Linked DNA regions of Homo sapiens: region 1 is linked to region 2. Evidence: fine-mapped expression QTL. A gene starts in region 2. The other region holds a variant in brackets. All regions are shown on one strand. Distances are between the middles of the regions.

What was found. PIP is the estimated chance that this variant, and not a neighbour inherited with it, causes the effect.
Region 1: its variant is fine-mapped to the expression of ANO3 in thyroid (GTEx, PIP 0.94).

Annotation. Positions count from the first base shown.
Region 1 is chr11:26,569,153-26,577,498 of GRCh38, forward strand. All of the region lies in intron 14 of ANO3 (anoctamin 3), which reads left to right. MUC15 (mucin 15, cell surface associated) reads right to left here and starts at 3,111. Exons shown (of 5, transcript NM_001135091.2): 1 at 2,889-3,111. The variant A/C (reference allele first, on the strand shown) is at 4,019.
Region 2 is chr11:26,327,397-26,335,742 of GRCh38, forward strand. ANO3 (anoctamin 3) reads left to right here and starts at 4,734. Exons shown (of 27, transcript NM_031418.4): 1 at 4,734-4,925. The coding sequence starts at 4,880. LOC105376598 (a long non-coding RNA gene) reads right to left here and starts at 4,578. Exons shown (of 3, transcript XR_931138.3): 1 at 4,466-4,578; 2 at 4,124-4,239; 3 at 857-1,329.

The DNA of each region.
Region 1 (8,346 bases), 240 kb after region 2:
TGCCTGTGACATTGAACCACCAAGGGGATCTCTCATTCCTTTACCCAGCTTTTGATTGTAACTTGAAAACCTAGGGTATCAACACCCCCAAACGTGCGAAGCACTCTGTTACTGCCTATAATTTATCTCCCAGGAAAAGGAGAGAAATGGAAGAGAGGGGTAGTTCAGTATGTTGTGAATACTATTAAATATTTATGGTTTATTCAGAAATTTATACACTACAGATAAGGCTTTTGTGAAGACGGATTGTCCTGACATTGCAGTAGGGACAAGTTTGCCTCTGCTGCCTGGCTTCTAGGAGAGCCAGGTTACGCCACTTACTCAGGTTCCTTTCATCTTAAAGTCGTAGAAGCAGCCAGGAATTGAAGTCATCCGTTATTCAGAACCCCACCATGAAATTTTGCTGGAGTAAGGTCCAGGAGATTTGGCCGAAGTTTGACCTCATGCCAACTGAACAAAGCACATTGCAAGTGACAGAAGCCTAATGGAGGTGGGACAGCAACTCCAGAGGGCAACAAATGAAATCTATATATGTTTTACTTTCGTGTGTGCTTTCCTTTTAGCCTCTCTCCATCTCTGGAGTTCAAATATCTAACTCTATGTTATATACTTGCTTTATAAAGCTGAAATGATGATGGATTATGGATGGTATCCCTGAGTGCACCCAAGTTCATCTGTCAGCCAGGTGCACTGTGGGGGCAGACAGAAGGTGGGATGAAAGAAAAGTAGAATTGCAGAGGGAGAGAAATCAGGAGAACCCAGTAATGATTTCACCTCCTGATCTTTGCCTCTTTTTGCATCTGGGTGGTAGCTCCTAAGAGAAATTTTGAAGTTATAAAATAGAGGTTTAGGATCATCACAAACTCGAAAACCTTCTAAAGGTAGAATTACTATAAAGTGAACAGAGAAAGAAAGGAGGATTTCCAGTTCCTTTGTGATACCTTAAATACAGATTCTAAACTTTCCTGTATATATTAACATTTTTTTTGTTTTAAAATTTAACTAGTTTTAAAATATATTTTCATAGTGTCACTGTTTTAGAACAACTCCTCTACAGAGGGAGAATGAACACGACTTTCGCCTTCTTTGTTACTGGCACTGGAAAGTGGTTTCACATTATTACTTTTGTATGGAGGGCTGCAGAAAGTGATGAGAAAAAACAAAAACAAAAAACACCTCTGGCCAGTAAGGGAAGCAAACCCACATTCACTGTCCATATTTTTGCTTCCTTTTAAATGCATAAAGTCATTATTCTGTCCAGGCTCTCTGTTGAAATCGTGGGTCATACTTATTTTATACCAAGCTTTGGAAATAAGGAGATGTCCTGGTTTATGTCAGGTAATTAACCCATATAAGGGCAAAGAAATGCTACTCATTCTAAACAGAATCAAAATCAGAAATTCTAAATAGAATCATCAGTTCAGGTATACTGCAGGCATAATATAAAAACATGTTTCTATAGTAAAATCACTGACGACTATACATTGGGCTGCCTTTTCTCCAAGTTGTGTTTGATCATTTCTTCTCACAGATGTTAGGCTACAAATTAAGACAGATGGGTTTTGTTTGTCTCTCAAAGAAAACTCTGTCTGCTATGTAGCTAACATCTCAGGAAGAACTTGAGTGTTACTCTGAGTGACTTTTTCCAATGTTGGACAGTATTTTTAGTTTCCTAAATTCAAGAGCAACAATAAATGAGGACATAAGACATCCTTCTAAAAATGCCTCTTTTATGAGAGGGTTTTGGAAGCGTAACCAACTAGAAAAAGGATTGTGACTGAGAAACTTAGGCCTCTCATTTTACTTTTATGTGATGTAAAAAGAAAGAAAAAATAAAAAAGAAAAGACTGGCTTTCTTTCAAGAAAAAAACAAATTTCAGAAGTTTGAGAACATTATTCTGGCTAAAAGACTTAGGCTATGTAACTACAGGAAAAATGTAGAGTTTGTCATATGACCTGCTACCTTGGGAGTTTTCAGTCATAAAATTCAGTACTTAACTAATTAGTGATGAGTGTCAAGCTTAGAAAGAAAGAAAGTTTCTCCGAAAGGAAAGTTCTAGATCAAAATTTTCAAGCATAGGGTTTCCAGCCTTCTGTATCATACTGTAATGTCTATAGGAGCAGCCTCTACAGACTAAATAGAAAGTAGATAAATGGAAATCAGCATCCTTTTAATAAAAAAAGAGGCTTATATAGCCACAAAATGAAAATAATTTTAAGAAATTTTACCACATTTTCATTTCATAGGATGTTTTCTGTAGTAACTGATGTAACCTTTTAGATTTCCAGTGAAAGTTAGACATGTACACATATCATGCTAAATAATTATATGTACTGTACAACAGTTTCCCAACTTTTTAATTAAGAAAATCTTTGAAAAAGATTTATAGAAGCTTCTAATCTATTTTATTAGAAGATTTTTTCCAAAACTATTCTAATACTTAAAGCAAAAACCTCTAATACTTAAAGCAAAAACCTTTCAGCACAAATGCATAATTTAAATCTAAGATTCAATTTATATTCATGCTGCCACTTCCACTTTAAACATTTTGAAACCTTTACTAAGATCTGACTTAAGAAAATTCTATTTCATAGTCACGTATGTTTTAAATAAGGCTTTTATTTAACTCTTCTGCTGGTTCTGTAATCTAGCAAATTTGGCAGTAATTTTTAAAGCTAACTCATTTAGGAGTGCAAATACTCATTTGGAAGGTCATTACTTAATAAAACAACTACTTGTCTCTGCAAGGATTGCCGTAGCTACTTGCCAGGCTGTTCTGTCAAAGTTGAGACCACTGCGATTCTCTTTGGTAAATAATCAAGGAAGAGAGAGAGTAGAGAGTGAAAGAGAGAAAGCGAGAGACCTAAGTGACCCAACGCACACTTACCTTCAGGCTTAGGAGGTATTTACAATCAGGAACTGAAATATCACAGTTGTCCTGTCTGAAAGGAATCTGTCGTGCATTAGAGAAAACAGATGGGTTAAGTGTGACAATGTCGCACTGAGCAGGAGGGTGCCAGGGAAACAAAATTAGGTGGGGCTGGCTGTATCTTGCTTGTGTAACAGAGCGCCCAGGAACCTGACTGACCTGCTTCTCAGCTGTAAGCATTAAGATATCACCTCATTCAGGCCTTTAACAACAACAACAAAAGCCCAACCCTCCAGTTTTCATAGGTTGATCGTTTTAGCTTTGGGACAAGGTATTACTCTCGTCAGTGGTAGCAAAACACGGGTCATCAATTTTTTTTTTCACCCTAAGTGAAAAAAAGGACAAAGATTTTGGCAAAGTCATCTGGTATAGCAGGAATTTCTGACATGTGCTGGGCCCCCTGCTCCTTGCAGGTGAGGAATCCAAACAAGTCATGCCCTGCACTTGTTGCTCTATGCCAGCCGCACATTCTCTGAAATCATAAACAATTTTTCTGTACTCTAGTAGATTGCCCTATTTGTGTACTTAAAGCCTAAGTAGAGAAAATGTAGTGGGGTCAGTAGTGAGGCGTCTATTCTGAGGTCCACTGAAATTGTTTTTTTAAGAAACTCCTACTTAACACAAAGTGAATTAGTAGCATATATTGGGATCCCTGAGAACGCTGTGAGGTGTTACATGAAAAATAATCATCATGACTGAGATTCGGTTTCTTGCTGACTTTCAGGAGTTTGGAGAGGAACTGGGGCCTGAGAATGGCCATGTGATCCTCACTTATCCTAGGAGCCTTCTCGATTAAGTAGTTTCCACCCTGTGTTCTCTCTGGTTTACTCTCACTTTAGAAGCTGGAGAATTTCAGAAGTGCCCAGGTAATGCTTGATTAAATACTAGAGTTGAATAACAACTTGGCATACTTCCTACACTTCCTTTCAGAGCTTATGAAAGGGAGAAGAGTGAAACTGGGATCTTCCGCACATCAGCGTTTGGGGATGGCGCCAAGGGCCGTTCAGCTCAATATGCCTGAGGTTCATACTTGGTTTCTGCTGCACAAGGAGATAGGTTTTCAACTGCTGAGCGAGAAACGAAACTTT[A/C]GCTAAAATGCAGGAGCTAGTAAGCTTCAAATGGAATGCAAAGAATCTGCCCAGTTAATTGGCCCGAGGAAAGAACAAGGTAATTCTATAGTTTTAAATTTTCTGAAGCCCAAAGGCCCCTTCAGAGTTTGATTAGAAATTAAACCAACCCCGAAAAAATATTGTCTCAAAAGATATTTAAGCTGTCTCTACTGTGGTACGAAGAAAAGCAGGTTAAATTTAATCAAACAGTTAGTTACTGAACAGTGGCTTAATAGAATTCAATGGCTTATTTTCAGATTAGCCACTTTTTAGGTAAAAATCCAACTAAATATATTTTCTGTTTGTAGTTAGAGAACTGAACATGATTGGGCAGGACTGGGTGCACCTTTTCCCTAGGCCTTTTCTGCAATATGTGTGGGAATATCATTATCCCCTTCTGCCTTAACCATAGTAATTATGGCTTATACCAGGCATAAACATTGCAATGCACTTTTGCTATAGCTCTCCGTTTTCACTGCCATAAAAGTCCCGCTAATTTCTCATGTTGCTTTTTCCTGAAGACCCTTTCTGTGGGCCCAGAATCCTATTCATCATTGCCCTCCTTACAATCATAATCAATTGATTAGACCTCACCCTAGAGATAAACCTTACCTACCCTCACTGTCTTGAGCACATCTGGAAATAAACTTATAAAATGTAAACTGTACGTAAATTTAATGCCTCAGTTGTTACTTAGCTCACTTAGTTGTTATCAGAAACCTTTGTTTACTCATGGAGTTGGAGTTAAAAAGTAATTTCTAGCCAAACAAACAAGTTTCACTGAGATACAGTCCTAGGTTCTAGGTAAGACCAATCCCACTTTAGACCTCCTTTCTCCAGAGGAACTCCACAATGAGAGATAATTACCTGCAATTTCATCAGCAAACCCAGCTGAGATGACACACTGTGCAGTGCTTGTATAATTTTTTTTGGTACTTACCCACTATGGTGCCTTTCATCTGGCACTCACCAATTGCTTTACACTCATTAATTACGTTTCACAATACATACTGGGAGGAAGAAAAACCTCTTCCTAGTCTGCAATGATAGAACCACTCACAAGTGGAGTTTCCAGAACACGAAGACACATGAATATCACTAATGGATCTGAATACAGAAGCAGACATAGCTTGGGACCACACTTCAAACTAATTGAAAACATTGTTTTGAATCCAAAAGAGTATCTTTTTGTACAAATCCTATAGCATCAAATCTTGATGCTGATGTCACATGTAGGGAATTTGCATTGATCAGATTCACTGATAGCATATTTAGTCTGATACAGGCTACAAGTGGAATTCATGTTTGTTTCCCCATAGGGACATAGGTACTTTAAGCAAATAAGAAATATTTGAATAATAGTAAAATAAATTACATTATGAATCTATTATTTGAGAGTATTTTAATGATATTCTTTATAAATAAAATAGAATTTAACGGCTGGGAAATGTATTTGGGGATAACATTTAATTTATTTCAATATTCTATTAGGATAGAAATAGAGGGATTATTCTCATAAATGCTAATGGTTGTTTATTATTCAAGTTTATCTTTCTCTGGTAAGTAATATGGTGCTATAATAAGATCTTCTTCACTTAACTATAACTTTTTGGAAAGGTCAAATATTCCATTTTGGGGTTAAGGAAATTCTAGGACAATGCCCTTGGTTAAGCAGAGGTTATGATATTGCATATACATATATGCAAGTATACATACTTGCATGCATACATACATAAATGGTGAGCTAAAGAAAGTTGTAAACCTGGTCAATCAACTAAAAATAACTTTAAAGGATAGATCTTTATGTGATTTGGGGCATTTAATTCGACCATAGTTAAAAGAATTGAATGATAAGACTATAGCAAAACCTGTTGCATTTCTATCTATATATTTATGTGAACCTGTTTTCTTAGTAAACATTTTGAAATATAAAATATATAATTGAAAATACCATATTGTAACAATATAAAATATGAATTGAAAAACAAACACAAACCCTATTGATATCCTTAAGAATATAACAGTCTTAGATTTTGCATTTAATATTCATTAAAATTTAAAATTGATTATATTGTTTTATTACTTCTGATGATTACTCAATTCTAATTGTTTTTTAAGGTAAGAGCCTAATGGTCACAAGAAATTTTAAAAATTTAAACAATTGCTATCTCATTTTTAAAATTATTTTAGAGTACTATGCAAGATAATCAACACTTTCAAACATAAATATATATTAGAAATATTTTGAAGTAGAAATTGGATGGAAATAGATTTAAAGATAAAATGAACAATTTAAATTTTGCAACAGATTAGTGCTTTTTAAAGGTATATTTTTAAAGAGACACAATTAGGTATAAAATACTAGTATAAATTTATTTTAAAATGTCCATTTTTATAAAGCACTGGAAATCATAACCTTTACGACTATTTAAATATATAATGGAAAGAAATTTTGTACAAGGAGATAAATAATTTCACAAAATTATTTTAGCGATTACACAATCATTTTCAAAACCACTGACATTGTGCAGCTATTAAATTCAGAGTAGTAAATCAGACATTTTCAATAATTTCTATGTGATGGCTAATAGTACTTGAAGCTGTTCATAGGTTTAAAATATTTTCTTGGGTATTTTTCTGTATTATTTAGGGTCTCACATAGTGTCCACTATATCTTTTTATCTTCCCTTCCAGTTCTAGCCAAACAAAAACAAAAAAGGTAGAGGATAGCGTTGTTACAAGATGATGGAAACATTTAAAAAATAAACAATACTTTCTTCAGAATGATACTTTTGCTGACGTGATCATAGTCCGCACATGTTAGCAGAAAGACTTTGTCGCTCAGGTGGCCCCATGAAATCTTTATTCAGTGTTAGCACTCTGGGGCTCTGTCTCTGGCTAGATTCTCCAGATTTATAATCACCAAGGAAGCAGTGTGCTGAGTAGAACAAGCTCAGGCTACCACGTCACAGTTTCTTTGTTTTGAATCCTGGTTTTGCCACTTAATGGTTTCATAACCTTGGATAATTGCCATCACGTTTCCAAGAATATTTTCTCATTTGTACAATAAAGAAAGTGACACTACTTCTTAGTTGTGTGTGGAGTCAAGTTAAAATAGATAAAATAATTGTGTGTTACTGGACACTTAGTAGTCAAACTCAATTAGACTTAATTAATTATAAATATAATAATTTTTTTGGAGATGATAAAAATTGAGGCTTCAGTGTCAGCATGAATAAATGTTGAGAGGAATCTAACTAAGTGTACAAGCACATATTAGATTATTTTGAATTTGCATCTCTCAGCACATAGTAGTTACTCAATGAATATTAATTTCATGAAAAATGAATGAGTAAACTCTTCTTTATTTTTACCTGAATTTTTCCCTGCCAGAGAGGCTTTCTCTGATCACACTTTGTAAAACTGAAACCCTTTTTTCCTGACCTATTCTCACTCCTCCTGCTGCATTTTCTTCATAGCACTTATTGCCATCTAACATACTGTATATCTTATTTATGTATGTATTTCTTATCTAGTCCCATACTAGAAAAGTCAGCTCGTGACAGCTTACGTTTTTGTCTGTTTTCTGCATTGCTTTATCCACAGGGTTAGACTAATGCCTTGCACAGAGTAAATGCTGGATAAACTTATAAGTGAAAGATTAAATGAGTGAATTGATAAAAGATTGAATAAATATTAATATATTTGTCAACAATAATAACAAAAAGTGAATATACTATTCATGAGACAGCTGTAAGTTTACTTTTTCTTCTTTTTAGAATATTCTTCTCAACGTTGGCCCATTCAGATCTGAAACTTGACTTTTTTTTCACTTAAGGACATTCCTTGGCCACATTTATATGATTGTGAGCAGTTTTCTTTGGTAGGTGGTTAGTGATAGGAGCCATTTCACAAGAAGAGTTGGCCTTAACTAGAGATGCAGAAATCTTCTAACATGTAAGAATGTAGAGGATATGGACACAAGGATAGATAAGTGGGTAGATATGGTTTTGGTGGTAGTCATGTAGACAGAAAAATTGTCAACTGAGAGTATAGGTATCAGATTTTTTTTAAAAAAGAGAGAGAAAGTGGCTGGGCATGGTGGTTCACGCCTGTAATCCCAGCACTTTGGGAGGCTGCGGTGGGCGGATCACCTGAGGTTAAAGACCAGCCAGGCCAACATGGGGAAACCCCGTCTGTACTAAAAATACAGAAAAAAGAGGTAGCTGGGCATGGTGGCAGATGCCTGTAATCCCAGCTACTTGGGAGGCTGAGGCAGGAGAATGGCTTGAACCCGGGAGGCAGAG
Region 2 (8,346 bases):
ATCTAACTGGCTTTGTACTCAGTAGATGTAGATGTGGATAAAATATATCTTCATACAAGAAATGTCATTGCTCCCTGAAGGAGTTTTAGGACAATCATTCCCAGTGGAGAAAACAGCAGCAGCAGCAGCAAAAGCAGACCAATAAGGAAGAAAGCAATATAGGATTAAAAGAGTTTGTAAAAGGGTCTTTGAAACAATATTGGAAAGTGCTGCAAGAAAATATGGAGCCCCTTGAATGGTAAAGCAGTGAACATGGACTTGATGATTTTTGTTTAAATAAATTAAATTGTCTATTTTTAATAACATTATTGAAGTATGATTGATATACAAAGAACTGCACATACTTAATGTACGATGAGTTTGAACATATGCAAACACCTGTCATGCAATCACTACAATCAAGGCAACAAACATATCCACAGGATGTATGGGACAAGGTAGCTGATGACAGATTAAACAACATGGATTTAATCCTATAGGCAACTTGAAATAATTATTCAGATTTTCAGCAGGGTTCTAAGATATGAACTGCTGTTTAACCCATCATCACCTCCTTTGTCCCACACATCTCCCTTCTCTTGATGCTGTCTTCTTACACAAATCATTTTGTGTTCCTGTCTCTTCAAAATGCCATGTGCTCCAAGCACTTGAGAATTAATTTTTTTAAAATTCTGTTTTGTAAGACTTCTTAAGGCTGGACTCAGAGAAGGTTGAGGCTGCTGATTTTCCTCCATGACTTTATCTTAGACACACCCATCAGTAGTACTACTTCTGAATGCTACTCGGAGCATATAGCCTGGATATCATCAGGATGAATCTACTTAATTCTGCTGTTATACTGTCACATGTGGCCAGAAACCATAGGCTTTTAGGGAGAAAATTGTTAAATTTCACTCCATTTTTCCTTTTATGATAGTATATGACTTTTTTACAGAGCTGGTTTTTGTCTTTAATATACGGAGAGAAACTAGAAGCAGGAAAGTACTGCTTTTCCATTTCTGTTACCATTTAGGCAATGAGAAGTATCATTCACAATTCCAATTTTAATTAAGGCAGTGATTCATGACCCAAAGAGGCAGAAACAGGACTCTCTCAGTCCCTTTGACAGAGCACAATACAGAGAAACTCACAACTGGCTGAGCTGAGGGACCTATTTCGAAATTCAAAGGAATAAAAAGTCTCCCAGTGATGTAAACATCAGAGTTTCTTACCTCTCTGGGGAGCAAATGTTAGCAGGGGGGCTGCAAAGTTAATTACTTAAGGAGGACAGGAGACAGGTTGTGAGTTGTGGGGAGCAAGAGCAGCAGAAACATGAAGGGGAACGAAACCCTAGGTCCAAAGAGAAAAAAGAGAAAAATTGAAGTTGTAGCAAGACAGGTATATGGGTAGGGGGGTTGAAGATCTATGCATGTAATAAGGATAAAATCAACACATATCATTGATAAAGTATGAAAATGATAAAAATATATGAAAGTATAAAAAATATTACCCTTTACTCAACTTGCAAGCATGATTACTCCAGACATTTTCGCATGTTTATTTCTAGGCTTTTTTTTTCTACTTTGGAAAACAGAGTCAAGACTGTACTGTGTATTATACATTAATCATGCCCCCTCACTAAACATTATATAAAATACACATTTTGCATGTCATTAAAATTTGGAGAAAAATGTTTGAAGCTAAAAATAGTAGGAAAAAGCAACCCAACATAGTTCATAGTTAGCTTAGCTTTCCTTAATGAGGCTACTTGCTATCCATTCTTAAACTGTCCACAATGGAAATGTCAGTCCATCAAAATGCTTCCTTTTACCCCAACACAGAATTTTTATTTTGAGTTAAAAAAGAGGGCTTTTGCTCAAACTCTTCTTTCTACACTTCCAAAACGTACTTTCTTTCTTTACACACACACACACACACACACACACACACACAGAGAGAGAGAGAGAGAGAGGAATCTTTTTCTCTTTGCACTGCCTTTCTATAAAGCAGATGGTGCTTCAAATTTCCTCGGCCCCTCACAAAGCTGTTCCTCTAGCAACCTCCCCTAAAAGACTGATTTTAAAACAAGCAAAGATGTTCTTTGAATCCCCTGCTAGTCAATCTGGCAGTCCAACCTAAAATGTTTCTAATTTTAAGAAAAGTAATTAACTTTATGACAAGATAGTTTAATCATAGCTGCACCAAGGAGGTTAGGGTGCAAGGGTGTTAGAAATAATAACAAACATTCTTTCCTTGGAAAAAAATCCAATGAGGTTCAAAATCTCAACTCATTTCTAGTTCTGGCAGATACATATTTGCCTCCTGCTGGGTTTTGGATCAGGGAGTAGGTTGGAGAAAATCAGGGATCAACAGAAAAAGATCTTAGGAAGGTAAAGGTGATACCTGTGCCTAGAAATGTGGAATAGAGGGACTTAAATTTTTTTTTTTTTTTTTTGAGACGGAGTCTCGCTCTGTTTCCCAGGCTGGAGTGCGGTGGTGCGATCTAGGCTCACCGCAAGCTCCGCCTCCCGGGTTCAAGCCATTCTCCTGCCTCAGCCTCCTGAGTAGCTGGGACTACAGGCGCCCGCCACCGCCCGGCGAGGGGACTTTAATTCTTTTAACTAGTCCTGCTGACCAGGGATTGAATTAAAGTTTAAATTTCAAAAATATTTCTGATTCTAAAACCGGTGATTTAAAAGGGGGTTTTAAACATTTAAATGAGATCTACAGGGGTCATAACTGACTAGTAAGTATTGGGTGTTAGTTTTCTGCCATTCTTAAATTCATTGTCTAATCCTCACGTAGGAGAATTGGGTTGCATTAGAATCAATGAGTTGGTTCACATCAGAATGATCTGTAAGCTGAGTTCTATCAGAATTTTAACTCTGGATGAACAAAATTTAAAAAAAACATCCTCGAGCAAGTCATTTATTCTTCTCGGTTTCAATGCCCTCATCTATACAATATCTGTATTAAAAGCCCTTACGGAGACAGTCTCTGAACTGTGTTTTAGATCTTCATTTGGAGGTGAACTCACACTGAGTTCATTGTCTGTAACCAAGTATTTCTTCAATGCCTGCATACTGAGCTCTTATTGAATGCTCAGCATTTCTTTCTGGAAAGACCATTATGATACATTAAAGAAGGTAGCACATTGTTTGCTCTTCCTCCCACTGAGAGTAGAATCCAATTTCGCTTTTTGCTTCAGATGACTTTAAGACCAGTTACTGAACAATCAAGAGAGACTCTGAGAGATAACTGCCTGTCTGAATCTAGCCCACCTGCAAAATCCATAAGTAATAATAATAAATTTTAGTTTACAGCTTAGTTTCAGGGTAGTTTGTTATGCATCCATAAATAATTGGAGCATCTGTTTGTTCAAAGCTATATTCCCCTCATTCTTTTGTATCATGCACCACAGATGAATCAAACAGCATACAATAATAACTCAATATTTTTGAGGTATCGAAAGTTTGGAAATTTCTGCATATTTTTTATCTGCTTTTATTTGGATTATTCACCTGATTCTGAGTTGATTCCATAAAACTTCAAAACTGAGGAAGCAACGGACTCTCACGATGTGTCTGTTCAATAACATCTTACATCTTCCAGGAAGAACTTAGGGCTTTGAATCAGGGAGCAGAGATAGATGGAGGAAAGGAGATCCTACTGAAAAATGTGTTCAGCTAGCTTCTGGTCCTATTTTGGCCACTGCAGTTTGGTCTTTCAAAAGTTACTTCAAAGTGGGAGCTGAATGATGAGAACACACGGACACAATGGGGGAACAACACACACTGGGGCCTGTTGGAGGGGGAGGGAGAGCATTAGGAACAATAGCTAATGGCTGCTGGGCTCAATACCCGGGTGATGGGGTGATCTGTGCAGCAAACCACCATGGCATACGTTTACCTATGTAACAAACCTGCGCATCCTGCACATGTACCACGAACTTAAAATACATGGTGAAGATATAAATAAATAATAAAATAAAACTTCTCAAACTAAACAAAAAGAGTTACTTCACTTCTTTGGGTATCGGGTGCCTTCTCTTTCAAATAAGGTGTTGATTTATGTGGTCTTGAGAAATCTTTGTTGCTCTGATCTTAAGTTTCTTTTTATAATATTAGAATCATAGTTTACCTACATTACAGGGCTTTTATGAAGATTAAATCGAGCATCGTGGGTAGTGTTTTTTCAGCCCCTGTGACTAAGTAGGTTATAAATGGTCCTCAGTCATCATCATCATAAATGATTCAAGGCCTGAATGGCAGAAGAAGAAGAGGAAAACTCAAGTGAAAAGTGCTAGACATAGAACACAGCTTACCTAATAAAACATGCTACTGGCTAACTAAGCTGGGGTGGCTTTCTGCCCCCTCTACTTAAATTTAAGAAAGAAAAACAGAAACGTCTCTGCATCTGCCACTGCATACCCTCTCAGAGCACAGACCAACTTTGCCCTTCCTTAAAAGTCCCAGGGTTTACCTACCAACTTTTAGGAAATAAATAACCAGCCTCAAAGCTTGGCAAAGAGGGCATCAGTATCAGCTCTAGAGGTTTGCTCCGATTTATATCTCCTCCTCCAGTAAAGTCTTCTGCTCCCACTCCCAGCCAACCCCGCTCAACGCCCACCCCTCACTGTGGCACTGGACGCGCGGGGGATGCGGGGTTGTTCCCAGAGTAGCCGCTAAGGGGAGCCGGACGCTAGACCGCCCTCCCGCGTTCCCATGACAACGACACCGGCGGGCGCGTAGCCTGGAGAGCGAAGTGCCGGCTACAGCAGGTGTCGGATTGCAGTGCGCTCGCTGAGGCTCCGGACCTTGGAGCGTCTAGAGTCTGGCTACTGTTCCTCCGCCTCCCTCTCGGGCAGCTCCCTAAGCCGGCTGGGACGCGCAGAGTGAAAATGGTCCACCATTCAGGCTCCATTCAGTCCTTTAAACAGCAAAAAGGTCAGTTGGAATCTTGCTCCCCTCTCCCTGCGGGCGTCACTTCCCCCCTGCATGCCCTTGCAGTTGTGTAGGAGCATCCTTTGCAGGCTTATGCGACACAGAGGTGGGGAACTCTGTGAAGTTAAAAAAAAAAAAAAAATTAAATTCCTCTTCACTCTGCATCCTAGATGAGTGATTTTCTGAGCCTCCGCACAGTGCCTGGGAGTATCGGAATTCGTCATTTCAGGACTTGACTTAATGTATATCTCTGTGAAGACTGTTTCAATGCACTGCAGTAAACCCGCTTAGTAGGGATTGTCCGAATAGCTCAGTAGAGCTCTGAGGGGTGAGGACAGAAATGTTCAACAATATCTGCCGTCTTCTGTGGTTCAAATGTTGAGTAATCTTCACAAAAGTGTGTCTACTCCTTGAGACGCATTTACACAATCATAAGATAAATGAATTCTTGGGGGAGTTCCAGAGTTGGCCTGTTGCAGTTAAAGGGGCTCTGTCACTTCCTTGGGAAAATTTATTGTTTGCCCATGTCCCATGCTTGATTCTGGGTTTCAAGTTCTTGAGGTTAGGTTTCTCTTCTAGGGGCTTCGTATTATGTCTTTTAGTTTCTCCCTCAAGTTTCTTGCTGGGCATAGTGACAAGAATCTGTATGTTCAAGTTATCCTCACTCTTTGATCTTTGTTTCTTATTTGGTTTAAAAGGCTTTTTACAGAGCATTTTTATTTTGAGGCACATTCACAGTTTTTGGAGTTTTATTATCCAGAAGCATTAATTAACACAATTGCCACTTTGCTGAATTAATAATGGTAATTATGATACAGTTAACCATAGAGTGCCTTAGATGTGTGAATTCTGGAATGCTGAATTTGTTCATTCAAAGTAAATATTTACTTAAATATTCTCATCCCCACCCTCCAGATATTATTTGTATTTCTTTCATCAACAGTTGTTTTTATGTAGCTCTTTGACTTTTTTTTTTTTTTTGAGGTGGAGTCTCGCTCTGTTGCCCAGGCTGGAGTGCAGTGGCGCGATCTCGGCTCACTGCAAGCTCTGCATCCCAGGTTCATGCCATTATCCTGCCTCAGCCTCCTGAGTAGCTGGGACTACAGGCGCCCGCCACCAAGCCCAGCTAATTTTTTTGTGTTTTTAGTAGAGACGGGGTTTCACCGTATTAGCCAGGATGGCCTCCATCTCCTGACCTCGTGATCCGCCCGCCTTAGCCTCCCAAAGTGCTGGGATTACAGGTGTGAGCCACTGTACCCGGCCCTTGACTTTTTTGTTTGTTTTTAACAAAAACTAGATTAACACACAAGAAACAATTTCGAAGGGATTCCTGCGTAAGACAGAATATGGGACTGACTGAGTTTCCAGTTCCATAATTCTGTACTCAGTTCAAGCCCAAGTTCTCTAGGATGTTTCAAATATATGTTGAAATTGGGAGTGATGTGTGAGACTGTAGGGGTAGACAAAAATTTCACCTAGTATGCACTTCTACTTCAACTCTAAACATTTCAAATAAAGTTAAACTGCTTCAAGAAGTTGTGTTCTCTTTAATCATGGTTTTAAACATACATAAACTTTCAGAATGAAGACAAAGATGATAGGAACTTTGCAACAGCCTCACAGAATAAATACCTCCACTGATGCATTGGCTATGGGTGACTCATTTCTGGGATCTGGAAGCTTCAAATGGCCCCCACAACAATGTATTATGTATGGATACATGTTGTGTTTTTAAGAAGGAAATAATTGACAACTGTAGGTCCGACCGTCATTGCTCAAAGAGAGTGATAAGAAATTGTGCAATTGCTGGCATTTCACATTGTTTCCTTTATGATGCATTATGAGCCATTTAATTTCAAGTCTTCCTTTACTCTTTGGCACAAAAGGCAACTTCAGCAAAAGGATACAAATCTAGAGGAGGAGTACTCCGGTAGGAAGGAAGCAAGATTCATTTTAGCTAAGTGGTTCTGGTTAATGGCTTCTTAATCCTGCATGGGCATTAGGAAAAAAACAGACCAAATTGAGGATTAGCTATTTTTATTCTTCAAATAGGAAGAAGCAAAATAATTCTCTAGATGTGATCTGTCCTAGGAGGTATGCAACAACAACAACAAAACATTCAGATGTGCTTTTCACCATAAAATTAACCTGAAAATTGCACATTAAAATGGAGAAAATTCTGTAGTGGAACTCTGTACTCCTAGGTTCTAAGCTTGCGTTTGTTACTAGCTGAGAAATCTTCAACAAAGTGGTTAATTTCTTTGGACTTTGCTTCATACATAACATGAACAGAATACATTCCTAATCCCTTTGGCCTTTTCTGTCTCTCTTCCTCTGTTTAATGGGAGGGACGGTTTGCATATGAAGGCAGAGATGATTTCTTCTGTGACCAGATAAAGAGGAGAGCCTTGCTTTTAGTTTACTTTTACGAATTAATTTAGCTGAAAAATCCAGTTGATGGAATTTACTTTTGTTTTATTCAAGTGAGCTCAATGTCTCTTTTAAAAATTTTGATTTCAACTTGAAAATATCTAGAAATAGCCTGATATAACTAGAAATCACCCTTGTTATATTATTTTTAAAGTTTCCACCCTTAATTGAAAAACAGACACACTCAATATTTAAACTCTACACAAGGCATAGGGATTCTCCTTTATATATGAGAACTATGTATTAACCAATCCCCGATCAAAATTGGTTTTGATAGGTAAGTATAAGTATAGTATAGATAAGTATAGATGCCAGACTGGTTATCTGGGAAATGAAATACTGTATGTAAGCCCTAATTTATTAATTTAATCTCTGGTCTTTATTTTGAGCCCTGGATATTAATCCAATATATTCTACTTACAGGTTATGTCATTTAATATCACTAAGCCACAGTAACTGCTTATGTGAAATGAAGATAATTATGTCTATCTTGCAGAGTTATAAGGTGTTTAGCAGTTTGTCTGACACACAGTTGGGGCTCAAAAAATTTAGTGATTTTCCTTACTAAAATTCATCTAGGCTCATTCACCTTTGGTTGGCTCTTTAGTAGTATATTGGACTCTTAGCAGTTCCCTTATAATTTCTTGCCTTTTTTTTTCTTTTGCATCACGCAGCTTTATTACTTTGGGATTCATCTTAAGGAAAACAGTGGACTCCAGACCATCTATGGATGGTTTTTTAAAATAGTCTGGAGTTAACTATCACAAACTCTCCTCAATTCATATGTCCATCCCTCAGGAAAACTTCCAAAAAATTCCCATAGAAATTTTTAGGTTTGTAATTAACTTTATAATCTAAAATGTTTTTGCAAGAAATGGTATTTATTTACTGTCCACTCTTAAGTACCATGCTTTTGCTGCGTGTATGCCAGGGACTGTGCTTAATAATAGCATTATTCAGTCCTCTTTTGTTGCTGAATCTGTTGCTGCAAAAC